Linked DNA regions of Homo sapiens. The protein of the gene in region 1 interacts with the protein of each later gene in a pairwise test. Each region holds a gene or a part of one and is shown in the gene's direction. Other genes may lie near its edges. The genes, in order: CEP290, KIAA1328, CEP162, CEP131, CCP110, MAPK10 and ZNF423.

Region 1 (4,135 bases):
TTTCAAATTTTAAAATTATTGTTGGCTGGAAAAATTATAAGGATGATTGTAATCATGGTTATTTGTTTATTCTGTATATGTTCTACATGCCTATTATGTGCCTTATATAGTACTAAGGACTGAGCATATGGTTGTGAACAAAATAAGAAGTTAACTGCTGGATGGAGCTTATAGTCTTGGGAAATATACAGAAAGATTACTAGTAACTGAGGTGGAGGGTGGGTGGGGATTTGAGGAATAGTGACGAAAGGGTGTTATAGAAGTAATTTTTGACAAAGCTGAAGGCTAAAATATGAATGTATTGTTGAAGAACAAAATACATTGAGATTCCTGAGAAGGTAGGAATGTGATACAAATGGATCAGCCTTTGAAAGGAGGAATACCCTTTTCCTTTGTGTTAGGAGAGGAGGATGAGTGGATGAGCGTGGGAAGAGTGGATGTGTATAGAGGCTTTTATGTTTGTAGGCATAATGCTTGGAAGTTGAGGGGTTGGTGATGACATCTTCTGTTAAAAAGAGTGGGAAATGGTGTGGTCACATTTTAAGGAAATTAGGTAAAATTTGAAATATATTGGAGACAGGACTGGAGAGTTGGGGATCTGGAGTCAGACAGATTTGAGTTCTAGTCCTGATTCTTCTACTCGTTAACTCTCTGAACTTGGATGACCTATTGTTTTTGATTGTATATCCAGCTCCTGGGAAAATGCCAAGCACTTTCAATAAATACTAAATGAATTATGGAGTTGGATCAGTTCTGTGTTAGTGTTTAGCTAGGTAGCTGCTGTAGAATAGAAGGGTAGCACAGTTGAAGATATTGGTAGGAAAGTGGTTGAAGTGATGATTATGAAGTCTTAACTGAATAGATAAAATCAAGATTGGGGTTGGGTGGGCAGAAGGGTAGGGATATGGAGGGAGAAGATGAGGGGTTAGAGTGTCCTGTGAGGTCGAAGGACAGGCATAGTGGGAATAATTGAAAGAATGTTCTGGTTGGACAAGGATCTGATGTGGGTGTGGGAGTGAGAGACTATAGTGAATTCAAGAAAAAAATAGACTAGAACAAAAGTTATGTGGAGATTGCTTAGTGGGCATTTGATAGACATCTGTGGGCCACATGCTTAAATTCCCAGTGCATTTTGCGGAGTTACTGGAAGGTTGGTGGCTTGTTTCTACCATGAGTAGGTAAAGATGGAGAGCAGGATATTTTGTGAGAAAGCAGCTGAAGTTTCTATAGGATGATGGAGGAATGATAGGAATGATCACCTGAAGTTGCAGGGTGGGGTAAACCTAGAAGCACCAACACCTTCTTCTGACCCTCATGTATTTGGAATCTGAAAGAATGAGCACCTTCCAATTGAAAGAGTTCCAAGGGCATTAGTATACTAAAGGATCCAAATTGCAGCTAAGCCAAGGAGATGGAAAGGAGGATTCAGTAAAGAATCTGAGGATGTGAAATATTAATTTATCTTGGAAGAGAATTTTAGAGAGCACAATGGAATGCTTTTTGGAGGAGAGAAAGAGTAAGAACAATTTGGTTAAGGTAGAGGAATAACAGAACTATAAGGTGAAGAAATGAATGTGAGACACATTAGATGACCAAATGATTTGATGTTCTTGGCCATGACCTGAATTAACAAGACTGTGAGGTAAAATGGATTTAATCGGCTACAAATCTTAAGATAACCAAAACCTGAGCTGTTTAATATGGTAGCACTAGCACTAACCACTTGTAGCTATTTATATTTACATTGGTTAAAATTAAAATGAAAAATTTAGTTCTTCAGTTGCACTAGCCACACTTCAAATGCCCGAACATAGCTACATGTAGCGAGTGGCTATTGAACTGGACAGCACTGACAGCATGTCCATTATGCTAGAAAGTCCTATGGGACAGCACTGGTCTAAACAGTGCATGGTATGAGAGAAAGGGCAGGTTAAGGCACTCAGCTTCACTGACTGGGGTGGAGATTCTGATGGTTTGTACTCAGGTTCCAGATCCCTGAGGCTCAGGAACCTTTGCAGTTTAGTCTGGTTACCTGTGGCCCAGTGGTTACAACAGAATGATTAACAGTCAATTCTTTGCATCTCTGGGTGGCTCAGGAAAAATTTAAGGAGTTATTAGCTGTGAACTAACCTTAAGTAAGTTAAATTAAAAAAAAAAAAGTTCTTAAGCTAATATGATTTTAAATATCTGCACTGAAGTATAATGCAAATTTAAATTCAGCATAATTATTTGCTTGTTGTTGACTCATTTGAACCTCAAAATATAATGGGATTAATTTATACTTTGGGTTTATTACTTTAAGATGGCTCAGCAGTCTGCAGGTGGACGAGATACTCGGTTTTTACGTAATGAAATTTGCCAACTTGAAAAACAATTAGAACAAAAAGATAGAGAATTGGAGGACATGGAAAAGGAGTTGGAGAAAGAGAAGAAAGTTAATGAGCAAGTAAAGCACTTTTTTTTTCCATGAATCTTCACTGTTCAAGTTACCTGGCTTTTTATTATTATTGGTAACAATATCAATTTTTATATTGTATGTTATATTTGAAAAATGATGTACACTTATCTCTAAGGTTTTATATCACTGTTCATTTTGTCATCACCAATTTTAAAATATAATGGTACTTCTAGTGAATATGACTTGAAGATTAATTCTTTATATTTGGAAGTACATTTTTCTCAGGACATCAAACTTGTTACCTAAAATTAATGCTTTTGTCTGGAAGATTGGTATCAAGTAACTAATAGATTTTCATAAAGAAGTGATCTTTCTAGTGCCATAGTTTATTTTGGGTAAAAGTTATATTTGTTCATTTCAATGTATTTATATGATTAGTAGATTCGCAAATGAATCTTTCGATATATTCAATAATGGTTAATTAAATATCTTGTTTTTGGTTGTACCTTATTTTATGTGAGATATATATATATATGTATAGTTTTTGAAAAGTTGTGTTCATGTCAGCAGTTTATAAATCACATATTTAAAATAACATTTTTAATGCATAGTTTTTATTACCTCGTTATTCCTTGTTATAAACTAATAATTCTTGCAGTGTTCACTTGAATTTAGTTTTAGGAAAAAAGTTTTTTGCAGATCAACTTGTATTTCCTGGAAGAAAATTTCCTATTTTACCTCAGCTTCCTATTTAATGTATTATTTATTTATTTACTTAACATTTATTTGTTTTTTATTTCACCTGAACTGTTAGTAAACTTAGTAAAATTTGGTGCCTACATGTGGTAACTGTCCTGTCCCTTATACTCAGAAACGTTTTCCACCTTTGTGTCCTTTAGGTCATTGTTGTGTTATATTCCATTTATTTTATTTTGTCCATTGTTCTCTCAGAAATTGAGGGTCATACATTTTAAGAAAACAATGATATGCTATTTAAGAGAATGTATCATAAATTGATTTGTAAGGAAAAGTATCCCCATTCTTCATGTATGTATTTTACTCTAAAATGTTGAAGAATCATATAGAAGTTAGCTATGAAAACAATGTGGTAGAGAAAGTATGGATCGATGCCACTTAAATGTTAGGAAGAAGCTCTTAGAGCATTATCTGTTTAGCTAACTGCAAAACATAGCAGACATGTGGATTTTTTAATAGTCATCAAGGATCTAACTTATAATATACACTGGTAGAATTGCTTAGGGGGATGTCTGTGGTTTTCTGGACTTTTGTTCTTCTATATAGACCTGTATCAGTTGACTTATCATTCATACCACACACCCTTAGCTAATCAGAACTACCTTGTCCATTTATATCTTAGACTATTGTCTTTTTTCATAGTCACACACAGAGAAAACTTGAATATATGGCCTGTGTTCCTTTTTGGCTGCTCAATTCCTTGAGATGAAATATGGGTATGGGTTGCTTTGGCAATTACTTCTTTGCCGTTAACCAGTCATTCAGTTTTATTGAGTCTTTACAGCATACCAGAGGCTGCTAGTTACTAGTGATATAGTGGGCAACTATGTTCTGGTTCTCAAGAATATTCATAGTCAATAATAAGCATAACATAGTGATAATATGATACTTAGGGAGATACATAAGGTCATATTCTGGCATACTCTGGAGAGAGATACCGTAATCAGCCTTGAGGTGCAGGATGTGATCTGTAAACTGAGA
Region 2 (4,135 bases), on another chromosome or scaffold:
AGGTATTATAAATAATCTAGAAATGACCCACTAGTAGGCCCACTATACATTTGGTATATAATGTGTCTGTTTGACTTCCCCATAAAATATACATTTGTTGGGAAATTCTAGATTTGAAGGAGGTAAATATTTGGGTTCTTAATATAATGAGATGAAAATACATTACAAATTATTAGAAAGGATAGAGGCAATTTCAAATATTGTTATTAAAAATATTGAAGTAGTTTGTTTAGAGTTTTATATATTTGAAAATAAATTTGTCATGGATGTAGCTGAAAGTAAAAGGTTTTGTTGGCCGCTTGCGGTGGCTCACACCTGTAATCCCAGCATTTTGGGAGGCCAAAGCAGGTGGATCACAAGGTCAGGAGTTCAAAACCAGTCTGGCCAACATGATGAAACGGCCGTCTCTACTAAAACTACAAAAAAAATTAGCCAGGTGTGGCGGCGGGCACCTGTAATCCCAGCTACTCGGGAGGCTGAGGCAGAGAATTGCTTGACCTAGGAGGTGGAGGTTGCAGTGAGCTGAGATCAAACCGCTGCACTCCAGCCTGGGTGGCAGAGCGAGACTCTGTCTCAAAAAAAAAAAAAAAAAAAAGTTTTGTTTGCATATTTAGAATCACAGAAATATAACATATAAGGTTGTTGGACAACACCTCATAAAATTAAATCAATACCAATTTTATTCTTTCATAGATGGAGCCAGACATTCTTTTATGTTTGAGGGTACAACACTGAACAAAATAAAACAAAAATCATTACCCTCTTGGTGCCTACATTTTAGTGAGATGAGATCAGGTCATGAATAAGGAAAATATATGTTCAATGATTTTTTTTTTTTTTTTTGAGTCAGAGTCTCGGTCTGTTGCCCAGGCTGGAGTGCAGTGGTGCCATCTCAGCTCACTGCAAGCTCCGCCTTCTGGGTTCACACCATTCTCCTGCCTCAACCTCTGGAGTAGCTGGGACTACAGGCACCCGCCACCATGCCCGGCTAATTTTTTTTTTTTACATTTTTAGTAGAGACAGGGTTTCACCGTGTTAGCCAGGATGATCTCGATTTTCTGACCTCGTGATATGCCCACCTCGGCCTCCCAAAGTGCTGGGATTACAGACGTGAGCCACTGCACCTGGCCTATGTTCAATGATATTGGTGCTGTGGAGAAAAAATAAAGCAGGAAAGAGGCAGATAGTAGCGGGAGGTAGGTAGGTTGTGGGAAGAGAGAGTTTTGCAATTTCAAGTACCTATATGGTTAGGAAGTGAAAGCTTCAATCAGAAGGTGACATGACATGACATATGACATAAGTCCTAAAGTGAGCCATGAAGATATTTGAGGAAAGAGCTTCCTGGGTAGAAGAAATCATACCTGCAGAAGCTATAAGGTAGGAGCTTGCATAGCTTGTTAACAATTATAAGAAAGCCAGGAATGAGTGAGAGGAATAGTAGCAAGTGAGATCAGAGATGTAACAAGTTACAGGGATCAGATCTTGAGCATTGCAGGCTGTTGTTAATACTTTGGCTTTTAATCTAAATTAGAAATGACATAACTATTAAAATGATCATTCTAACCACTGTGTGAAAAAATAGGCTGTTAAGGGAACATGCACAGAAGTGACAGAGAGCAGTTAGGAGCTTATTGCAATAATCCTGGGAGAGGAAAAGTTGAGTTGGATCAAGGTGACAGTTGAAAACAGTGTGTTATAATCATAGCCTTTCTAAATTTCTCCTTTTGAAATTCAAAATAGTTCTTTTTGTCTTAAATTTCTTCTACTTTTTAAATAGTAGGGCTTCTTGGGATATTTTATGAATACACTGTAGAAGAATAAATAATGTCTTTGTGTTTGCATGATTGACTTGCCCTCAGTGTTTGTTCTTCAAAGCTAAAGTCTATCTTGAAATTATTTACTCTTCAGAATTGTCAGTTCCTCAGTAATGACCAAACTGGAGCACTTAAGTTTTTGTTTACAAAAGGAAAGGAACCTAATAGTAGAGTATATATTGCAGGGTAACCCACTTGAGAGTGGATAAAAGTTTCATGGAACAAGACCTTCCAAGATTTTTATAAGATGTGTAGTTGTGAATATATAAAGGTGAACTTTTAGAGAATATTAATTTTGCTACATTTAATTCAATTACTTTGCTTTCTAACTTTGTTTTTAATTCAATTACTTTGCTTTCTAACTTTGTTTTTAAAAGTTAGTTACAAATTCCCAGGTCAAAAGAAATTATGAATTATAAGAGGTATACAGAACAGAAGCAGCATTTGGATGCCGGATAATATTATTGTATTTTCCTTCATGTTCTCCTGCGTAGTTTCTGATGAAGAACAATCAGTAGTATACGTTCCAGGTATGATTTTCTATGTTAAAATTTGGGAAGCTTACTTTGGTCCTTAAATGTTAGAAGAAAATAAAGCTATTAGAACAATGTTGCGGGTATAAATAACTGAATGCAGAGCAGTACATCAAAACCTAAAATTTGTTTTTTTTGAATATTTGTCATAACCCTATTAAGGTTTGAAATACTGGCTTATCTTTGGGATTGGCTGGCCCAATCAGCTTTTAATGAACTTGTAGAACACTTCATGTGGCAAGGGGCAAAAGATTCTTTTCTTATTTTTTCTTTTACAAATGATAGCCAAATTTAATATTTCAAATAAAAGTGTGACTACTGCTTGATACAGGGTATATGTAAGAGGCACTTCAAGTTTAATGGTTGTAACTAGATGGTAGTAAAGCAACTATTGAAGGCACCCTCATTATATAGGGTGAAAAATATCATTGATTTCCCCTAAGTTAACATATATTTGGCATATCGTAATTTATTGGTTTTAATGTGACTTATGAATATTTACAGTACCCTTTACAAATATTTCAGTTAAGCTGGATGTGGTTGCTTGATCCTGTAGTTCCAGCTACTCCAGAGGCTGAGGTGGGAGGATTGCTTGAGCCCAGGAGTTCAAGTCCAGCCTGGATAGACATAGGAAGACCCTGTCTCTTTAAAAAAATAAATATAAAAACAAATTTCAATTCAATCTTTAGTGTATTTCTTTAAAACATATTCTTTTTATGATTCATATATTAAGAGCTTTAAAATTAAGTTTATAAAGTAAGAGAGTTTCCTCCATCAGGTCCCTTAAAGTAGAGGATTCCAAGGAAGGAGTTGATGGGGGAGGGTTTAAGATAATAAGGTATAATTTTGAAATCTTGTTTAATGGAAATCCTTAGGAATTTCTGCTGAAGGAAATGTCAGATCAAGACACAAGCTGATGAGTCCAAAAGCTGATGTTAAACTTAAGACTTCCAGGGTGACTGATGCTTCAATCTCCATGGAGTCCTTAAAAGGCACAGGAGATTCAGTAGATGAACAGGTTAGTATTTTTTTCGTCTTTTTTTTTCCTTGCTCTCCAGTCTTTATGAGTGCTGACCAAAAAGGGTAGAAGAACCTTTGAAAGTATACTAGGTGATCAACAAACATTCTTAAAAGATACAGAGGATTCCAGGATCCTTTGATGATGCCAGGTTTGAGCCTAAATTATCTGGATTACTCAAGGGTTTTGCTCCAAAACATCTGACTTGCTGTAAGCATTAGCCATGATAATGTATTATCTTGATATGTCTCAAAAGAACTACATTCTGATCTGTGTGGCATTGGTAAATCAAACTGATGAGAATTGCTTTTTAATTAGGCATCCTTTTTGATTTTTATTCTTGTGAATTTATTTGATAGATGAACCCTCGTAAAGATGAGGGACAAATCAATGACTAGGCATAGTAATAGTATCGGTGCATTCCTTTGGCACATGTCCTATCTGACCAGTTTATTTTACTTTAATTTTTGTTATATTTTCCCTCTGCAACCAGAGTTGTTCAATACCACTTCACACTCACTAGGATGTCTACACAAAACTTGTATATGAATGTTCTGGAATCTATAACCTGTGGACCAAATCCTTCTGCCTGTTTTATAAATAAAGGTTTTTTGGAATACAGCTGTGCTCATTGTTTTACATAATTGTCTATGGTTGCTTTTGTGTTACAATAGCAGGGTTGCTACAGAGACTGCATGCCCACAAGCTAAAAACATTTACTATCAGACCTTTTATAGAAAACTTTTTTCAGTCTGTGAATTATGTTCTCA
Region 3 (4,135 bases), on another chromosome or scaffold:
TGCTCTGAAAGCACACTTAGTCCGCACCAAAATGTTTCATAATGTTATCAGCTGCTCCTTGATTTGTCATTTAGAAATTTTGATTGATTATTGCTATGAACATTTAACAGAAGAATTTATTTAAAACTAATAAACTCTGAAAGTTATTTCTATCCACATTCTCACATTTATTTAGCTCCATTTGTCAATTGACATGAGTCTTGGGTTAATTGGCCATCTGTGTCAAATTTAGTAGAATGTTGATTATGGAGTGGCAATCTTTCTGAATGCAATCAGTTATAGTGAAACAGCTGTGTTATAGTGTAGTCCATCAGCCTATTCTGAGATCCTCATTTTTGTGTTTCCATTGTATTTTTAGTTATTGGACACAATTGATGAGTATACATTTAACTTTACATTTGTGGTGCATTTATACATTGTTTATAATATTTAGAAATCTTATCTGGAACAAAACTCATCAAGCCTGCAGCTTTGGATAAACCAGCTCACAAAACTGAAAGTTGCCTGTCTACTCGTAAGAAGTCTGAAAATCCCACAGAAACTGATTCCTGTATTCAGTTTCAGACTGTAGGTATTCAAAATTAATAATCATAATGTTTTATGTTCTAAAATTATATTAAAACTAAATTATATATAACAAAATATAATAAGGACTGAAATGTCTTTTCCTTTGAGTGATACTGTAATCACTCTTACTAAACAGTTAATTTTCTTATATAATAGAACATTATTAACCATGTCCTTTTTATTCTTTTTTTAATTAACCACCTGTGTTCAAATCTTATACATAAGTCTACTGTAATGAAGTAATGCTTTGTCTTGAAAGGATTCCTTAGGATACTGTGGTGAGAACAAGGAGAAGAAATTACTTATGTTTAAAAGAGTTCAGGAAGCAGAGGATAAATGGAGGGGTGCGCAAGCCCTAATTGAGCAAATTAAAGCCACATTCTCAGAAAAGGAGAAAGAACTAGAAAATAAGTTGGAAGAACTAAAGAAACAACAGGAAAAAGAACTCTTCAAATTGAATCAAGATAATTATATTCTTCAAGCCAAGGTACTAGATACATTGTTCTGGTATTTTTTTATATTTATTAAAAAAAAAAAAAGCTGAATTCCCTGCTAAATACATTGTCATCCTTGGTTCCTAGAGATGTTTGACTTGATGTATTTGCTGTATAAAATATAGAATGGTTCCAAGAGTGATTCCGTACATGAGAGCCTAAATTTTGAACCCTTGGGGGAGAAAATTAAATTTAAATTGGCTCATTTTTATGGTTTTCTTCTGTTAGCAGTCCTTTTTAAAGAAAATCAGTTCATTCTGACCTTCAAAGAAATGAAAGTTTGAGCAAGAACTGCTATAGAAGGTATAGACCCAGAGGATGACATTGTGTAGCATTTGTGAGTTCCTTTACTCACCCAGCACCATCAGCACAAAACAGCACTTTGCTGATTTAACTAGTTATGTCACATTCTAATATGTTCAATATTATAAGACAGTTTTCGATCTAAATAGGAGTTTCCTGTTATTCTTTCTCACTTCTCACCTTATCATTTCCTTCCCCAAATAAAACAATTTCTGCAATTTCTCCAAGTTAAGCAGCTTTGAAGAAACAAACAAAAAACAAAGGTGGTTACATTTTGGAGAAGCAGCTGATCCTGTCACTGGAGAAAAGTTGAAGCAAATCCAAAAAGAAATACAAGAACAAGAGACACTTCTTCAAGGATATCAACAGGTATGGCAATTCTTCAACATATGGCAAATTTACTCTTGATCTTTTAGTTATAAAAATAAGGCAGGCCAGGCACAGTGGCTTATGCCTGTAATCCCAGCACTTTGGGAGGATGAGGTGGGCGGATCACCTGAGGTCAGGAGTTCGAGACCAGCCTGGCCAACATGGTGAAACACCATCTCTACTAAAAATAAAAAAAATTGGCTGGGCATGGTGGCGCACACCTGTCATCCCAGCTACTTGGGAGGTTGAGGCAAGAGAATCGCTTGAACCTAGGAGGCAGAGATTGCAGTGAGCTGAGATCACATCACTGCACTCCAGCCTAGGCAACAGAGTGAGACTCTGTCTCAAAAAAAAAAAAAAAGGTATATTAAAATACTTCTCTGCTTATTTAACAGATAATGGTAATCCTGGCAAATAGGAGATAATAATTTGACTAGTCTGTGTATTTCTCATGAGGAGAATTAAATGGTAAAAGCATGGGTTCTGGATTAGAAAAATGTGGTTTTGAGTCTTAGCTCTACCACCTGCTGTGTGCCTTGGGCATCACTTAATCTTTCTAATCCAGTTTCTTCATCTGTGAAGTGGGGATAATAATATATAGGATCCCTAACTTCCACTGGTTTGACTTAACAAAGTTTTAATTTATGATGGGCTTATCAGGATGTAACTTCATCGTAAGTTTTACTTACTATTTTTTGACTTTACATTGGGTTTATCAGGGTATTAAGTGCATTTTCAACTTAGGACATTTTTTACTTACTTTTTGGCCTTATTGGGATATAGCTATTTGCGGGGCAAGCAAGTTGAGGAGCATCTGTACACTCTTAGTGTGACACACAGCAATCGATCAATGAAAGTTACCTGTTATTTTTAATAGCCAGTTTCTTAAAAACTGTCCTATCTTTTCTTAGTTTCCTGTAATGCTCTTCAGTAGACAGTATTGGCTGGTTTTGCTATTATATTCAGAAATATGAATCTGAAATTAATTGCTAATGCCCTGAGGGTGAAAAAATTTTGAATTTAATGCAAGAAAATCTTTGGGTCCTATAGAGGCAGATGTTTGCAATGTGTAATGACATCTTGGTATCTTGGTGTTGCTAGCCTGACAGTCAACCAGGACAGGTTTAGTTATCTTCAAATCAACATAAGACTTTATCTTTGTTCTGTGCCTCCCACACCCTTTTTTCTTACTTCTCTCCTTTCTTGTCTCTCATTACATTCTTCTCTTTTGACAACTGTAACTTGAACCTTGAGCCTTAGTAACATGCATTATCACCCAGGGACATCATCAAAAGCATTGCCCCATCAATGATTACAATGTTTGCTGTAACTGAATTGGAATGATTTTGCAGGACACACTGCCTTCAGTTACTGGGAACCATTCAAATTCTTCTGCCAGTTTGATCTTGCCATTAAAAAACAGAGGTTTTTAAGAAAATTTAACAGACCCATAAGTATGCCGACCAACCCCTCCAACAGAGACAACACAAAATTTATGTGTCTAAATAGTAGGGGGAAATGTTTGTTAATTCTTCATGTATTTAAGCACAGACTGTCGCCAGGCACTATTCCAGACATGGTAAAACAGTCTATAGTTTGCATTAGATACTCAAAGCCCTTGGTTTGCATCTGATTTTTAATTTTAAACAGGTTCATAAGCCAGGGAGGGCATCTAAGTGCAGATTGGCACCATCTCTTCTCCCTCTGATCTCAACTGGTTGAGTCACTCTTTAGCTCTTTAGCTCAAGCCTTGTGGTGAACTGGGTCTGTCCTCTGCTCTGCCTTGTCCTGACAACTTTCAGAAACACCGGTCTTTAACTCCCTGTTTACAGTCAGTAGCAGATACAAGTATGAGCACCCGTAGGTACATCTGATTACCTCACCACTGGCAGCCAGACTTCCAGAATCTTCCTCCAGCAGTGATTTTTTTTTTCCCCTCTCTTGAGCCAGAAACAGAAAAGAATGTAAAGGGTCTCACTGGGTCTTTCCACCCGGGTCCACACAGTCAGGATGTGGTGATTCCTTCAGCCACTCTCCCACTTACCTCCTGTGAAATGCAGTGCATTAAACTGACCTTAGGCCCTTTGGCTTTGGGAATTTTGCAAATTATTTTTTCAATTAGCCATTTTAAATGTTATGGAAAGAACTGTTTTTAGACACCAAATTTTCTTCAGATATAATATAAAAAGTTTAAAAAAGACTTTACATACGCAAAAGCTAAAGAAACTTAAAAGGCCGTTTAAAGGATTAATCTATTATGAGCACATATATTATGTTATATAAGTACTAATGACTTTTAACTAAAATGCAGTTTTCTGTTTTTAAAAAGGAAAATGAACGATTATATAATCAAGTAAAAGATCTCCAAGAACAAAACAAGAAAAATGAGGAGCGAATGTTTA
Region 4 (4,135 bases), on another chromosome or scaffold:
TTTCCTCCGGCATTTAGAGCCTTTGCCAAGGGAATAGTCTCAGGGGAGAGACCGTGTGGTTATTCTCCAGGGTTGGCACAGGAAGAATTCTTGCCTTTTTTTTTTTGAGATGGAGTCTTGCTCTGTCACCAGGCTGGAGTGCGGTGGCATGATCTCGGCTCACTGCAACCTCTGACTCCCTGGTTCAAGCGATTCTCCAGCCTCAGCCTCCCGAGTAGCTGAGATTATAAGCACGTGCCACCACGCCACCACGCCCGAGTAATTTTTGTATTTTTTTCGTAGAGACAGGGTTTCACCATGTTGGCCGGGATGGTCTCGATCTCCTGACCTCATGATCCACCCGCCTTGGCCTCCCAAAGTGCTGGGATTATAGGCGTGAGCCACTGCACCCAGCTCAATTCTTGCTTTTTAATTTATTTTTAAGTTAGAGGCAGGTTCTCATCTGTCACCCTGACTGGAGTCCACGATCATAGCTCACTGCAGCCTCTACCTCCTGGGCTCAAGAGATCCTCCCCCTTCAGCCTTCGGAGCAGCTGGGACCACAGGTGCACAACACCACTCCTGGCTAATTTTTAAATTTGTTGTAGAGATGAAGTCTCGCTGTGTTGCCCAGGCTGGTCTCAAACTCCTGGGCTCGGGCAATCCTCCTTCCTTGACCTCCCCAAAAGCCCTGGGATTACAGGTTTGAGCCCCCACACCTGGTCCTAAAATTTACCTTAGTATTTATCAGTTATATGTTCATACACAGCCAAAATGTCAAACAGCACCATAGGCTTAAAATGTGCTGCCCCTCCTACCCTCCCCACCCCTGCCCCTCCTACCTCCCCTCCCGCTGCCCCTCCTACCCCCGCGCCGCCCCTCCTACCCCCCCACCCCTCCTACCCCCATCCCGCTGCCCCTCCTACCCCCCACCCACTGCCCCGCTGCCCCTCCTACCCCACTGCTGCCCCTCCTACCCACACTCTTGCCGCCCCTCCTACCCCTGGCGCCTGCCCCTGAGGAGCAGCATCTTTTCAAGCTATTTCTTCTGGTGTTTTTTTGTTTGTTTGTTTTTGTTTTTGAGACGAAGTCTCGCTCTGTCGCCCAAGCCAGAGTGCAGTGGTGTGATCTCGGCTCACCGCAACCTCCGCTTCCCGGGTTCCAGTGATTCTCTTGCCTCAGCCTCCTGGGTAGCTGGGACTACAGGCGTGTGCCACCACACTAGGCTAATTTTTGTATTTTTAGTAGAGACGGGGTTTCGCTATGTTGGCCAGACTGGTCTCGAACCCCTAACCTTGTGATCCACCCGCCTCAGCCTCCCAAAGTGCTAGGATTATAGGTGTGAGCCACTGCGCCCGGCCATTTAGTGTTTTATTGAAAACATTTATGAATACATGCCATGCTGCTCATTCCTGAACAGCTCAAAATCAGTCCTGGTAGGTTATTCACACCACCCAAATTGGCAGATGAGCCGCGCTCCAAGAACCAGCTGTTGAACGTTTGTGAGTGCAGGCTGGTGCCAGGTGCAGGCCAGGCTGGTGCTGGGCGTGGGCTGGTGCCTGGTGCGGTCCGGTGCAGGTGTGGTCCGGTGCAGGTGTGGTCCGGTGCAGGTGCAGGCTGGTGCAGGTGTGGTCCGGTGCAGGTGCAGGCTGGTGCAGGAGCAGGTTTCGTGCATTGCTCTGCTCTCTGCTTATCCTCATTCCCATCATGTTCTGTTGGTTTGATTTTGGGCCTCTGACATGTTGGTCTTTGCCCAGATGTCTTGGTGGTTCTTGTTAAAAGGGAGGCCCTAGGAGTTAGCTGGAAGCCTATTGCCTGGTGGCTTCACTTCGGGGCACTGGTGCAGAGAGCAAGGCATTGTTGAGTATCCCCACCTACCAGTGTCTGTGGGACCCTCCTCACAGGCTGAGTCTCTCCAGAGACAAACCCCCAGCCCGCCCCAGGGTTCGAGTCCTGGCTGCCCGGTTGCACTGCTGGGGAGGGGTGGCGGTGGCTGTCCTGGGTGAATCACCCATCTCTGCCCCACCTGCAGGGCCAGCTGGGGAGGGCAGGGTGGATGCTAGCGGCTCAAGTGAGGGAAGGGGCTTTGCCGAGCAGCCAGATTCTCCCCTTTGCCTCAAAGCCTGTCCATGCCTGTGGGAGAACAGTGTGTCTCCGTGGGGGCACGGGACCTGCCAGCTCCTCGCCCTCCCTCCCCACAATGCCTGGACCCTCCCTTGTGTCCCAGTTGCTCTCTGCTGGCCCTTCTGTTTCTAATCCTCCAGGTCTGCAGATGCCCCTTTCCTGCAGTCTCCCCATCCCTCCTGTCAGCCTCGGTATTGGTCCTGTCCTCCCGCCTTCCTGCGGGTCTGCGGAGGGGCAGAGGCAGAGAATGTGGCTTCCATCCGTCGTGTGGGATGGGGCTTCGCTTCTGTGAGTCTGCTCTGGAAGCTGATTGTGAGCTGCTGGCCTGAGCTGCTCCCCCCGTCTTGGGCACGTCCAGCGTTCATGCCTCGATTCTATCCCCTGCCCCGTGGGAGCCCCTGGTCCAGCTTTCCTGTCCTGGGAAGAACCCCATCATCAGGGCGCAGGCTGTGGAAGGGGCCTGGGGACACTGGACGACAATGCTGCCAGCACGTAGCAAGCACTGAAGGCCTTTGTTCCCTCCCAGCCCGTGCTGCGAGTGTAGCTCTGAGATCTCAGGCGTCCCCTCCAGAGGCCTGACCATTCCTGTCTCTCTTCCGGCCTGGCAGGAGCAACAAGGGAGCAGTGGGCAACTGCGTCACCACCATGGTGCACAACCGCTACACCCCCTCGGAGAGGGCGCCTCCGCTCAAGAGCTCCAACCAGACTGCCCCCTCCCTCAAGTAAGGTCTTCTGGGGAGGCCGCGGGGCTGCGGGGTCCGACCTCAGTTAGGGCATGTAGTCAGTGCACCTGGGGTCCGACCTCGGTCAGGGCACGCGGTCAGTTCACACAGGGTTCTACCTTGGTCAGGGCATGCGGTCAGTGTGCATGGGGTCCAACCTCGGTCAGGGCACGTGGTCAGTGCACGTAAAACCGCGTGGAGCAGCTGTGAACCGGGCTCCCCATCCACGTCCGCCGCCCTCTTCTGTTCTTGGGTCGGCAGCTTCCCACAGAGAGAAAACAGCCCAGATGTGGCACAGTGAGGTCTGGGGCTCACCCTGAGGTGGGGCCCCCAGGAGGAAGCCAAGGCTTGTGCAGAGCCCAGAAGGCGTCACAGCGGGGGTGGACCGAGCGGGGCAAAGGAGCCCCCGAGTCCACCACCACATGGTCTTGCGGGGATTGGGGATGGCCTTGGGGTTGCTCAGGGGTCCCTCAGGCTCTGGACTCCTGTGACTTTTGGGAACTTTCTCAATGGAATTTTTTTTTTTTTTGAAATGGAGTTTCATTCTTGTTGCCCAGGCTGGAGTGCAGTGGCATGATCTCGGCTTACTGCAACCTCTGCCTCCCAGGTTCAAGCGATTCTCCTGCCTCAGCCTCCCGTGTAGCTGGGAGTACAGGTGCCCGCCACCATGCCGAGCGAATTTTTTTGTGTTTTTAGTAGAAATGGGGTTTCACCATGTTGGCAAGGCTGGTCTCGAACTCGTGACCTCAGGTGATCCGCCCGCTTTGGCCTCCCAAAGTGCTGGGATTACAGGTGTGAGCCAGGGCACCCAGCCTCTCAATGTAACTTTAGTGAGAAGTTTTTAAATGCAAAGAGCTCATTATCCTGGGTACCAGTGAGTGGGACCTTGTCAGGGCACAGGTGGTCCAGAGGCCAGGATGTGGCACGGGAGAGCCGGCCTCGCACCTGCCGCTGTCCCCCTCTGCCCCGGCTGCCAGCCTGCCAGCACCACTTCCAGGCTCAGTCCTGGGACTTCCGGGAGTGGGCACCTGCTGCCTGTGGGCAGAGCTGTTCCCCTGGGCGGTGAGACGAGGGTGTTTTCTTCTTACCTGTCAGCAACATCATCAAGGCAGCCACCTGTGAGGGCAGTGAGAGCAGCGGCTTTGGGAAGCTGCCGAAGAATGTCTCCAGTGCCACCCACTCAGCCCGGAACAATACTGGGGGCAGCACGGGCTTGCCCAGGCGGAAGGAGGTGACGGAGGAGGAGGCTGAGAGGTGACCGATCTTGGGGCGGTGGGGGGGGGCCTGAGCCTAGAACACAGAGGTGGGCA
Region 5 (4,135 bases), on another chromosome or scaffold:
TTGCATATCCCACATCATGAATTGAATTTCCCTGCCCTCTCTTTTTTTGTTAAGAAGCTAATTATTTTAAAATGAAGACATAAAGGAACATGATTGTATTCTATTTTCTGTTTCCATAGTTCATACCCTTGCTGGTTATGATTCTGATAATGTCTTTTTATTTTCCCTTGCTTATTTAAAGGAAACAGTGCCACACATAATGCTGTGCAAATAAGCAATCAACATTTACTGTTTGCTAAATGAATGAATATGATGCCTAATCCCTCCTGGTTACCTTGTATTTTCATAATCACAATTTCCCAGAAACTGTGAAATTACTGGGATTGTTTTAAGTAGTTTGGTGATGGTTCCAATTTTCAACAATAAAATATAATTAATATCAGAGCCAATCGATTTGCTCTTTTTTACCTCTGACTGAGTTGGCTGGTGCTCATGCAGTCCAAGTATAGTGTTAAGATAGGCAAATTGAGGCAGGAGGATTGCTTGAGTCTCAGAGTTTGAGACTATAGTGCACTGTGACTGAACCTGTGAATAGTCACTGGAATCCAGTTTGGGCAACATAGTGAGACCTTGTCTCTTTAAAAAAAAAAAAAAAGATATGAGAGTAACCTCTGAACTTCAAAATAGAAAATTTTTAAAAGTAAATATTCTTTGATTTAAGTAGGCTTTTTTACTACAGTGTTTGTACCTTTGTATGATATAGTTTTTCTTGTGTAGATAAGTCCTGTTAAAGAAAATATAATATCCTGTTTTACAATGTGAAGTTAGTAAAGATTTACAGAACTTTGTTTCCTTTAAGAAGGTTTTACTGAATTCTTAGCTAAATTAATCCCATTTAAAGATTGATTTACATGCAATAATATTCAGAAATATTTAATATATAAAGTAAATCTTAATTGGACAGGTTCTTGAGGTGAATTACCATACCCAAGAATTAGCTCCTGATCAGTAAGACAATTCTGGGAGGACCAGTTATAGGAATTGTGAATTATAGGGACTCTCTCATGCTCTACAAAATCTGCCAAATAATTAAGATCTGTTTTTCCCAGTACATTAAAAATAACATTTTTCTCTCTTGTAGTGTGACTGTGGGAAGATGGAGGAGTATGAGAAGTTCTGTGAAAAAAGTCTTGCCAGAATACAAGAAGCATCACTATCCACAGAGAGCTTTCTCCCTGCTCAGTCTGAAAGTATCTCACTTATTCGCTTTCATGGAGTGGCTATCCTTTCTCCACTGGTAAACTTGCTTTGTTTTTAAATAGTTTTTTTCTGTAGTGAACAACTAAAACAGTTCGTGGAAAAACAAAAGAAAGGCTTATAAACATTTGAAGAGATGCCCTCATTCAGAATTAGAGAAATACAAATGAATTAGCATTTTTTACTTACTATTATAGATTGGCCAAGACCTAATAGAACTTTGTGTTCCTTAGATTGTGGAGAAAATGCACTTTTAATGCACTTTTGCTAAGAGAATCAGTTTATTTTATTTCTAGATGAGCAGTTTGGTAGAATTTAAAAGCATACATAGCCTTTGGGTCAGCAGTTCCATTTTTGGGTATATCCTACAATTATATGTGAGCCCAAAGAAATAAGTACAAAGTTACATTAGCATTGTTTAAAATAGCAAAGGTTGACGAACCACCTAAATGTCCATCAGTAGTGGAGTAGTTTAACTATGGTCTATTTTATAAACTCTCATACATACCATTACAGTAAGGCAGATGTAAATGTTGAGGCATGGAAGGATCTCAATGATCTAGTGTAAAACACCGTGTGCAGCATGCTGTCAGGGGCAGTATAGAGTCATGATTAGAGGTCCAGACTCTGGGCCAGGCACAGTGGCTCACACCTATAGTCCCAATGCTTTGAGAGACCGGAAGGAAGAGGATTGCTTGAGACCAGGAATTCAAGACTAGCCTGGTCAACATAGTGAGACCTCATCTCTATAAAAACATGTTAAAAAATTAGCCTGGCGCAGTGACATGTGCCTGTAGTCCCAGCTCTTCAAAGGCTAAGGCGGAAGGATCGCTTGAACCTAGGAGTTGCAGGCTGCAGTGAGTCAGGATTGCATCATTGCCTGGACTACAGAGAAAGACCCTATCCCAAAAGAAGGAAAAAAACTCCAGCCTGGGCTAACAGAGCAAGACCCTATCCCAAAAGAAGGAAAAAAAAAGTCTAGGCTGTGGAGCCTTCTGGCCTGGGTCCAAATCATTGCTTTGCTACTTACTTGCTGTGTAAACTTGTGGTCCATTTTCTTATTTGTTAAATGGGGATAAAATAGTGCCTACCTCATAAGGCTATTTTGAAGATTAAATGAATTCGTAGATATAAAATGGTTAGAATACCACCTGGATCATAAGAGGTACCCAATATAAGTTAACCATTTGGGTTTTTCAAAGGATGGCTATTCCTTTTCTGGGGAGTGGTGAGAGAATATAGGATAATAGGGAAGACACTTCATCATACACCCTTTGATACTAATTGGATATTTTAAAAATGCATATGACTTTATTTTAAATCACAAACTAATATTAGAAAAAAGTGAGCTTTAAATTTATTTTTTGGTATAACAGGAGTTAAGAGATTAATTTTAATTAATTGAATTGAATTTTTAAAGACACCAGAGCTAACTGCCAACTTTTTGTAATGAAACTTTCAAACATACAGCAAAGTTGAAAGGATAGTGCAGTGACCACCCATAGATTTACCATTAGATTAAATAATTTTTAACATTGTTGTCATCTTTGCTTTATTGTGTTTGTGATTTTTATATACATCTATGTGTGTGTGTACATATGACATTTTTAAAAATTGCCTAGCTATTTGAAAACCACGGAGACCTGACACTGCTCCCCTAAATATTTTGGTGTACATCTCTTAAAAATAAGGACATTCTCCTATGTAAAGCCCCAATACCATTATCACATCTTAAGAAAACTAATAATTTTTAATAATATCTAATAATTCTGTTCATATTTAAATTTTTCCATTTGTGCTCAAAATGCCTTTTATAACTTTATTCCCCCAATCTGGATCCAAAGTTCACAATTAGTATTTGCTTGTTATGTTTCTTTATTTTAATCTAAAATAGCTACTGTACGTCTTAAAAACAGTTTTTTTTATTGGTTGAGCATGGTGCCTCACGCCTATAATCCCAGCACTTTGGGAGGCTGAGGTGGGTGGATTGCATTGCTTGATCCCCAGAGTTTGAGACCAGTCAGGGCAACGTGGTGAAATCTCATCCCTACAAAAAATACAAAAAAGAGCTGGGTGTGGTGGCGCGCACCAGGAGTCTCAGCTGCTCTAGAGGCTGAGGTGGGAGGATCACCTGAGCCCGGGAGGCTGAGGCTGCGGTGAACCCTGATCATGCCACTGCACTCCAACCTGGGTGACAGAGTGAGATACTGTCTTTAAAAAAATAACAAAACTATGATACTGAATTTTTAAAGAGACCAGAGCTATTGTCTTGTAGAATTCCTTAGATCTTGGATTTGTCCCATTGTTTCCTAATAGTGTTATTTAACTTGTTTCTCTAGTCCCTGTAGTTCCTATGAACTGGAAGTGAAGTTTGATAAACAGGTTAAAGATTTTTGGAATTCTTTGAAGATAGGGCTGGGCGGGGTGGCTCATGCCTGTAATCCCAGCACTTTGGGAGGCTGAGACCAGCCTGGCCAACATGACGAAACCCCGTCTCTACTAAAAATACAAAAATTAGCTGGGCGTGGTGGTGGATGCCTGTAATCCCAGCTATGTGGGAGGCTGAGGCAGGAGGATCCCTTGAACCCAGGAGGCGAAGGTTGCAGTGAGCCAAGATCCACTGAACCCAGTAGGCAAAGGTAGTGAGCCGAGATCGAGCCACTGCACAACAGCCTGGGCAACAGAGTGAGACCCTCTCTCAAAAAAAAAAAATGTAATCCCAGCACTTTGGGAGCCCGAGATGGGTGTATCACTTGAGGTCAGGAGTTCGAGACCAGCCTGGCCAACATGGCGAAACCCCTTGTCTACTAAAAATATAAAAATTAGCTAGGCATGATGGTGGGTGCCTGTAATCCCAGCTGTGCGTTAGGCCGAGGCAGGAGAATCGCTTGAACCCAGGAGGGATCGGGATCGCACCACTGTACTCCAACCTGAGACT
Region 6 (4,135 bases), on another chromosome or scaffold:
CAGAATAAAGGACTCAAAGCAAGAGAGACTTCCTTCAATTAGAATGAGAAGCAAACACATTGTTGTCTTAAATTCTTTCTTCATTGCCCTTTCTATTTCCTCTTACAGTCTCTTTTAAGCTTTTGGTTGGACATTGCAACAATCATGCAGAAAGAGGCACGGAAGTGTCCAGTAGTGACAAGAATGGAGTACAATGCTCTATTTGCTGCAGGACTGCTGAGTGCCTTCCTCCTACCACACATGCATCTATTATTGCACCTTCTTCTGAGGACCAAGGACTTGTGGAAAAAGTTGGGCCTATAGACTAGTAGGGGAGATGCTTACTGGTAAAGAAGAACAGAATCCATTTGCTTCTTTGGCATATTGGATATATTTATTGCATTACATAAGCCTGAGATGAGACACTGTACTGCTGATTCAGATAAAAAGATCATGCTGCATATTGATTGTTTAAAAAATGTAACTTAGAATTGGAGCCCATCTTTTCAGAAACCTGTACGTGTTTGCAGAGTGAAGTTGTAAGGTTTTGACTCAAGATTTTTCAGTTTGAGTACATTTTATCCTCATGAACCGATCAAGGCAAAGAAGGGGAAAATACAAAACCTGTGTTTTGCATATCTTTTGTTTTCTGTATTTAATAGGGAGAAGCTGTATTTCTTATTGTGAATCTTGGTAGAAACTCTTAAGAGGAGACATCAGGTAATATTGAAAATCACTAAATATAAACATTTTAGGTTTAAAAAGTAGACCTCACACATATACTATTTCTGGTAAAGGATTTTCTAGTTTATTTGATGTTTTGGATCCATATCAAGCCACTATGGCTTTTCTTACAGTTCTTATCTCTGGTGACTATGAGATGTAAAATCCTTGAGGCTTATGGAAATAATGCTAGTAGGAATGGAAATTGAAGTTTTCAATGGAAAAAGAAATGAATACAGTCTCCTGAGAAGCATCCCTAACCACAGCTGCTCTAAAACCCTGCATGGTGTGCAGGTTTAAGGCAAAGCTTCCCTATAAGGCAATTGGGCATTTGCAGTGACCTGCACAGTAATAAACAGGATTTTCACTACCTTGTGTTTGTACACGTGTGTGTGTGTGTGTGTGTGTGTGTGTGAAGAAAAACAAAAACAAAAACAGCAGTGACTTTAAAGTTCTAGAAATTCATCTTAGTGACTTGTCTTCATAGAAATAAAACTGACTCCTGTTTGTCTGTGTTAACCTGCCTGGGTGCCCTATGTGCTTTCTGAAAATGGATTGCTTAAAGCAATTGTCCTCTTCTTATACATTGGAAATAGGATCTGAAAGCATTGATAGTGAAGGAAAGCTCTTAGGTTAGGTCTGTTTATTTGGCAATGTTTATTCAGTGTTTGTAGGCGGAAGCTCCAGCACAGCATTTATATAATATAGTAATTGCCTATTCTTCTATTACCTGTATTCTCTACTAAGGTTTAATCCCCATCAGGGACTGACTTTTTCTGTTTGGCACACAATAGGGACACACCAAATATTCATTGAATGAATATCTCTCATGTACTGAGTTCTCTGCTAAGTGCTATGGTAGAAAAAATTGGGAAACTGTAACACAGTTTCTGCCATTTGGAACCTATACTCATTTGGGAAGATGAGGCTAAATAACAATAAAGATGGTATAAAATCAAGGGCCCATATTAGTGTTTTGATAATGAGTGCAATAGAAATTCAGAGGAGAAAGGAATTTACCTCCTCTGAAGTGATGGTAGGTGACAATGGGGCTACACTGGGGTGTTGGGGTGAGGTGGTGGGATAGTGAGAGGGTGGTAGTCCTAGGAGTAATTGTGAGCACCTGGGCAGGAAAGAAACTCTTACTTGGGGTAAAGAGGAGGCCTATTTTGGGTATGATGACCATATTTTCCAAACTAGAAATAAAAACTTATGGTTTGACATTGGGTAGAATGTTGCAGACTGCCACATATTCTGAAGAATCTTGTCTAATATAATGTTGGGAAGTAACAGGCTATAATGGTGAAAAAGTAGGTTAGTAACTAGAAGAACATAAATACAGGTCTCTTCAGATGAGCTCCAGCTTAGGTTTACTTTCTTTTGCATACTTCAGAGGTTTTCAAAATTCTCCTCCTTTATTGGTACCTATGTAACCATTGTTCCAATGAAATCTTGTATGAAAAGCAGAATATGTAAATCTATGTAATAGTGGAGCTGTCCCAGTTGAGGATGAGTGGGGTGCCTTGTATTAGAAAACCAAATTCATATCACAAGACTAATTATATTAACTGAAATAAGAATTACTAATTTAGTTTATGCTCAGATATTAAAATAGTTGTTCTGGTATTATAACATCAAAGTTCTTGTGCTTGCAATAAATGATGAATAGAGATAATTACCTTGAGATATTTTCTTTCCTCTGCCTACACTCACCCACCCAGTAACCAACTGTCTTTGATGTCAGCTTTTTGGTTTTCTAAATACAAATTTAAATCTTAAAATCAAACTCATCTGTTTTTTGGCTTTGCTTTCAGGCTAGTGTGAGAAACACCAACAGCAGGCCCATCTCAGATCTTCACTATGGCAACTTATGCAAGAAACTGTTGAATTAGACCCGTTTCCTATAGATGAGAAACCATACAAGCTGTGGTGAGTTGCCAATTTAAAAATATTCCTTAGCATGAAAACTAGGATCTATATAGCCAATTTAAATATTGCATATGGTTTTGTACATGGAGCTGGAGAAATACTGCTCCAAATAATTTCGACTACAGAAGTGAAAATCAATAGAACAGAAGTTTAATAGTTGGTGTGGTACTACTAATACCACATACAGTAGTGAAAAGTCTTGAGGTGCATGGGTGCAGCATATAACACCATGATACTACCACCATGGATGATACCTGCAATTAACATTTTCATGTGGCAGAGTAACAGTTGGGTACCATTATTTTTAAGTGACTTTTATTATTTGCAACATTGTACTATATTTTACAGATTCATCTCCTTTAGTAGAAAAATTGGTTCTGAGCTAAATTATGGTTTTCTTTCAGGAACACACACACACACACACACAATTTAGCTCTTCTGAAATAAGAGAAGAGAAATCACAGTTTTATAAAACTCAATTCATGGGCATTTTAGCCTACAAATCCTTTTGCTTAACAAAGCAATGTTAAAAATAGATACAGTTGCTCTGCCTAGTTGGAATGACTTTAAAACTTATTACTTTATAAAAATATCAGCACACACAGGTAGAATGTCTTTTTAAATCAAATACTTGATGCTTCATAGTCACCAAAGTCAATAATCAATAGATTCCAGCAGAGATGAACGAGTTATAATCTGTCAAATAACATCTTTGAGAACTAGAGTATGACTGTGGTGCTTATAAGACTCCAAAAGAAGCTATTTTGAGCTAGTGATCAATATCTTTCTTTCATTTGCCTAGTGGCTTATATAACTGTAGATAGGTAGGCTGCCCTGTGAATTAATGCACAGCCTATGACTGCGGAAGACTGATGAAATTAATCCTAGAGTTATTTCATATAGTGAATTTATAAAACAATTCATAAAAAACAATCCATCTACCATTATATTGAGAAAGCAGATCTAATAGCATCACTATACTGTGCTTAATTAACATGTATTCAATGAGCGTTATAAATAATTTTATGCAATTGCCAATAACAAACTATTTTTGACCTAAAATAAGGGCAATTTTATATGGTTGAAACTAATATATTATGTGTTACTCCCAGTGATGTAGAAAGCATACCATGTTCTCTCCATTCTGAATATTAATTCATTAATCAAACTCTTATTGAGAATCTGTGATGTAGGTAGAATGTTTAGCTTTTGGGGCAGATAAAAGACAGTCCTTGCTTTAAAGGAGCCCTCAGTCTAAAGAGTGGGGTACTTACAATAAAATGTGCTTATTAATGGAGGTAGTTGTGTTCTAAAGAGTGTGGCACTTACAAAGTGCTATTACATGGGTAGGTCTAGAGTGCCAAAGGAAGTGCATCAGAGGAGACTCTACCACGGATGTGGTAGAGATTAGTCAAGGAAGACTTCCCAGAGGAAGGGATCTTTTGGTGGACTATTAAGCACAGTGAAAGGATAGCCAGAGGAAGGGAGGATGCAGTGCACAGTG
Region 7 (4,135 bases), on another chromosome or scaffold:
GGAGACTTGAACCCAGGCAGGCAGCATCTGCACCACAGCCCCTGATCTTGACCAACAGTCCACCCAGCAGCTCTGGACCACATCCTGGCTGCAGGAAGGGAAAGGCCAGCTGGGGTGGGGTCCCGGGTGGTCACAGCTGTGCTCAGGCTGTGGGGCAGTGCAGCTGGGCTGGGTCACTGTGCCCGCTTCTCCTGGGTGCCCCTCAACCCAGATCACCCCTCCCTTTCTGGCACTGCCCACCATGGTGCTGGGTTTTCTGATGGCCAGGGAGCTGTTTCTAGAGCCTCCAAAGCCTTGGGCTGTGTGAGCCTCCCTGGAGTGCTCTGCATCCGGCATCAAGCACCACTTTGTGAAAGCCCCTACTATGTGAGTGGTGCTCTGCTGGGCACCAACTTTTAGGTCATCTCTGTAGCAACAATCCAGGAACCTTGCTGTGGCCTGTGTTTTGGTAAAGAGGGGCTCCAGCTCAGAAAGGTGATGCCATATACCCAAGGATGCACAGCTGTGCGCGGCTGTGCAGGGACTGAAACTCAAGGGGACCGTGTTTCCTGGGGGCCCCCAGGCCTTCCTCTCCCTGCCTTTGGGCCTTGTGTGAGCAGGGATGAGCTGAAAATCATGGCTCTGCCTGCCTGGAGGCCTGGGGAGATGGGCCATTGCAGAAACAAAGCCCAGGTACCTCCCCAGGCAAGGCGGCATTCTCTGGGGCCTTGCCCCCTGTGTGGGCACACCTGGGGACAGGGGCCCAGATGTCAGTTAGCCCACCCCTTCCCTCCCTGAGGACCCACTCATGTAAGAACAGACTCTGGGGGTTTCACAGGGGCTTGGGGGCTGGCAGGCTGGGACCCTCGGGAGTGTATCCATAGCAACCAGCTCTCAGAGGACTGGGTTCCTGTGGGGCTGAGGCTGCTGTCGGCTGGAGCATGAAGCATTGAAGTTCCACCTCCCCCTCTGTTTATGGGTAATGACAACATCACCCCAACTCGAGACCAGCACGGGCAGACCCTGGCCATCCATTGATCCTGCAGATCCCCACGGTGCCTTTCTCTGCTAGGTGGGACAGGCCAGGTGTTCTCATACCCATTTTACAGCCAAGTAAACAGATATCAAGGTTAGAGGGCCTATCCAGATCCCACTAGCTTTCTGTCACCTAGACCAGGCCTGGCAGGAGATCTGGGACATGGAGCTGAGAATGGCAGCTCAGACAGTGGGCATCGAATTCCAGTTCTCCTACTCACCAGCAAGAGGCTCTGACCAAGTGATGCAGCCTCTTGAAACTCCACTTACCCCATCCCTAGGGTGGAGCTTGCAGAGGGTTTGTGAGTATTTAGCATAAATGCTGCCCACACATGGCAAGTGCTCAGTGAACATTGGCAGTGCTCACGATCATGGAAATATAACAGCTCTGGCTGGCTTTTCCTTCTCTCCTTCCTGTCTTGAAGGGCCTGGCCATTTCTTCCCTGCCCTCCCTCTCCTGTCTTTGCCATTCTCAAGTGTGTTTTCTTCCTGCCCGGGGCCCCCCTCTGCAGTTGCTCAGGGCTGTGTTGGGGGAGGCAGCCCTGGCCACAGGCCCTGGAACTCAGCTCTAGTTCTCCTGGGCTGGGCCCCAGGGAAGGGGCTTATGGCAGGGGAGGTGCTTTGAGTGCCAAGTTCTGTCTTTCTGTAATTATATCTCCTAGTGGGGGCTGAAGCTGCAGGAGGAGGGGGTCTCCAGGGGGGTTGAGAGTGGGGATAGACTAGGAATAGATGTTGGGGTGAGGACTGGAGTCCAGCCATGCTTGGAGGGTTTGGGGGCTGGTGAGCCTGTGTGTGTATGTGCCTATGTGTGAGTGCACATGTGAGCACTTATGAGTCTACATGTGTGTACATGAGGGTGTGTGGTACGTGTGGGGATGGGTCTGTGTGTATACTTGTGTCAGAAGCTGCATGCATGTCTGTGGGCGTATTTGGGAGTACCGGTGTGTGTACTGGGGTTGTGGTGAGTGAGCTGAAGGCAGGGTCTCTGGATGAGTGTGAACATGCCCATCTGTGTGGCCTTGTTCACCCATGTGGATGGCCCTGCTTCTCTGGGGGTTGCACATATGTATCTGTGTTACAGGTTGCTGTGTGTAGGGGTTGCGGGTGTGTCTGTGAAGGTCTTGTGTGTTGCTGGTGAGTTGGGGTGAAAGTGAGCATGTGAATGCATACGTGTGCTTGCACATCTGTGTGTGTGTCTTGTGTGTATGTGAGGGGTCAGCCCTTCTCCCGGCCCTTCCCTTGGGAACCCTCTGAACCCTATGAAGCCCAGTGCCCCACCAGGAGGGGCTCAGTTATTGGGCAGTGTTCTTCCTATTACCAAGGGGTGGCAGAGAGGCATTTGAGGGCAGCCTGTTTTCCTGCCCAAGCCCCTGGGGATGTATTTTCCAAGCACAGTGAGCTCCCTTTATTCACCTGCCCCTGAGAAGATCAACCAAGTCACTGTGATCATGGACTGTTCCCTGCATGCCTCTGGACCAGCCATGGCTGCAGCCTCTAGAGACTTGCACCCAAGCAAATCGCCATCCTTGGAGGGGGGACGTGGTCATCTGCCCGCAGCCATTGCTGCTGGTTGGTACCAACCCCATCCTCCCACCCACCCACCTATAGGCCTGGGCGGTCCTCATCCAGCAGGCCTCCCATGGGCTTCCTTGTGATGAAGCTTCCCTTCCTGGGATGTGCTTCATTCATTAATTCACTCATTCCATTCATTCGTTCATTCATTCAACCACCAAAGGCTCTTGCACTTTGCCAAGCAGAGTAGGTGGGGGCACATGTGAGACAGAAGGGATGGTTTTGATGCTGGAGACACCCGAGGTGGTTCATCTCCACGACCATGGCCCTGGAGTTGACCTGAGATGTGTACTCTGGGCTGCATCTCCTGAGAAGACCTCAGGCCCTGTAGTCTCCTTGTGGCCTAGACGTCTTCCTTTGTCTGTGGCAAGGCTGGACTCCCCAGCCCTGTCTTTCTCTCCACCCTGCCCCCGACTTACCTAGCTCTTCCCAGGGCCTTTCCATGCAGAGTGCCTGTGTCTGGGCCCCAGGCTGTGGCCTGTACTCAGGACACAGCGAATCCCCCAGGTCTTCTGAAACACTGTGGGAAAGGCCCCTGGTTTTGTCAGAGCAGGTCCTGGAGCCTGACGCATCCAGCTTCAGCTTCTCCAGTTGTTTCTTCATTCATTCATTTGTTCAAGCAGCATTTTCTTAGCGCCAATAATAATCGTAATAAAAGTTAAATAATTATTATGCACTGACTCTAGGTAAGGCCTGCGCTAGGGTGGTGTGGGTCCAGGACACTGAAGTCATCTTTGGTTCTCTTTGTCACCTCTGCCTGAATAGACTCCTCTGCATATGTTATTCTGCAACTTTATGTGTTCAGCAAATGCTTGTTAAGCACTTCATGTGCTGCCTCAAAGGTAGACAAAACACATTCCTGGCTCTCTGGGTGCTCATGGTGCAAGAGGGGAGCAGATGAACCAATCCACCCTGACACAACAATGTATTAATTACCCAGGGTCCTTTAGCATAAGTTCAGGGATGTGGAGGGGGTCCTGGACCCATTCTGGGGTGAAAAGAGAAGTCTTCTCAGAAGAGATGACATTTGAATTGAGTCAAGGATGGAGGGGGTGTTGCACATAGAGGAACCAGCACAGGCAAAGGCCTGTAGTTACTTAGGGAACTGTGGGTGTGGGTGGAAAGAGGGAAATAGGAACAGAGAACAGGTAGGATAAAATAGAAATTAATTCAAAAGATGGTAGGATTTAAAATCAACCATATTGACAATTACACTAAGTATAAATGGAGTTGAAATTTCAATCAAAAGGTAGAGATTGTCAGATTAGATGCAAAGAAAAAAGCAAGACTCAATTGAAAGCTATCTACAGGGCCTGGACTATAAATATAAAGACACAGGTAGGTTAAAAGTAAAAGGAAAGAAAAGTGTGCACCATGCAAGAGCTCATCATAACATTTCAGAATGATAAAGAGGGAAGTAGGAGCTGAGATGGTTAAGCTACCTGGTGGTTCATCTGGCTGCATAGTTGAGGGTTGGGCCTGGGACCTTGGCCAAGAAGTGTGAAGTCCTGCTCCCTTTTCCAGAAGTAAGAGAAGCCCTCTCATCCCA

What was found.
Region 2: the proteins of CEP290 (region 1) and KIAA1328 interact in binary tests that used the Homo sapiens proteins (3 or more experiments, as listed by UniProt).
Region 3: the proteins of CEP290 (region 1) and CEP162 interact in binary tests that used the Homo sapiens proteins (3 or more experiments, as listed by UniProt).
Region 4: the proteins of CEP290 (region 1) and CEP131 interact in binary tests that used the Homo sapiens proteins (3 or more experiments, as listed by UniProt).
Region 5: the proteins of CEP290 (region 1) and CCP110 interact in binary tests that used the Homo sapiens proteins (3 or more experiments, as listed by UniProt).
Region 6: the proteins of CEP290 (region 1) and MAPK10 interact in a two-hybrid assay, tested with the Homo sapiens proteins (one large-scale study listed by BioGRID and IntAct).
Region 7: the proteins of CEP290 (region 1) and ZNF423 interact in binary tests that used the Homo sapiens proteins (3 or more experiments, as listed by UniProt).

Annotation. Positions count from the first base shown.
Region 1 is NC_000012.12:88,134,954-88,139,088, reverse strand, and holds part of CEP290 (centrosomal protein of 290 kDa), read left to right. Parts: intron 1-2,302; coding exon 2,303-2,446; intron 2,447-4,135. UniProt on the Homo sapiens protein: Involved in early and late steps in cilia formation. Its association with CCP110 is required for inhibition of primary cilia formation by CCP110.
Region 2 is NC_000018.10:36,832,012-36,836,146, forward strand, and holds part of KIAA1328 (protein hinderin), read left to right. Parts: exon of another isoform or gene 1-1,377; intron 1,378-2,191; exon of another isoform or gene 2,192-2,262; coding exon of another isoform or gene 2,263-2,308; coding exon 2,309-2,344; intron 2,345-3,222; coding exon 3,223-3,365; intron 3,366-4,135. UniProt on the Homo sapiens protein: Competes with SMC1 for binding to SMC3. May affect the availability of SMC3 to engage in the formation of multimeric protein complexes.
Region 3 is NC_000006.12:84,171,646-84,175,780, reverse strand, and holds part of CEP162 (centrosomal protein of 162 kDa), read left to right. Parts: intron 1-433; coding exon 434-567; intron 568-826; coding exon 827-1,054; intron 1,055-1,592; coding exon 1,593-1,733; intron 1,734-4,062; coding exon 4,063-4,135. UniProt on the Homo sapiens protein: Required to promote assembly of the transition zone in primary cilia. Acts by specifically recognizing and binding the axonemal microtubule.
Region 4 is NC_000017.11:81,202,184-81,206,318, reverse strand, and holds part of CEP131 (centrosomal protein of 131 kDa), read left to right. Parts: intron 1-2,711; coding exon 2,712-2,825; intron 2,826-3,920; coding exon 3,921-4,079; intron 4,080-4,135. UniProt on the Homo sapiens protein: Component of centriolar satellites contributing to the building of a complex and dynamic network required to regulate cilia/flagellum formation.
Region 5 is NC_000016.10:19,526,786-19,530,920, forward strand, and holds part of CCP110 (centriolar coiled-coil protein of 110 kDa), read left to right. Parts: intron 1-1,081; 5' UTR 1,082-1,096; coding exon 1,097-1,237; intron 1,238-4,135.
Region 6 is NC_000004.12:86,353,026-86,357,160, reverse strand, and holds part of MAPK10 (mitogen-activated protein kinase 10), read left to right. Parts: intron 1-2,516; 5' UTR 2,517-2,631; intron 2,632-4,135. UniProt on the Homo sapiens protein: Serine/threonine-protein kinase involved in various processes such as neuronal proliferation, differentiation, migration and programmed cell death.
Region 7 is NC_000016.10:49,629,000-49,633,134, reverse strand, and holds part of ZNF423 (zinc finger protein 423), read left to right. Parts: intron 1-4,135. UniProt on the Homo sapiens protein: Transcription factor that can both act as an activator or a repressor depending on the context. Plays a central role in BMP signaling and olfactory neurogenesis. Associates with SMADs in response to BMP2 leading to activate transcription of BMP target genes.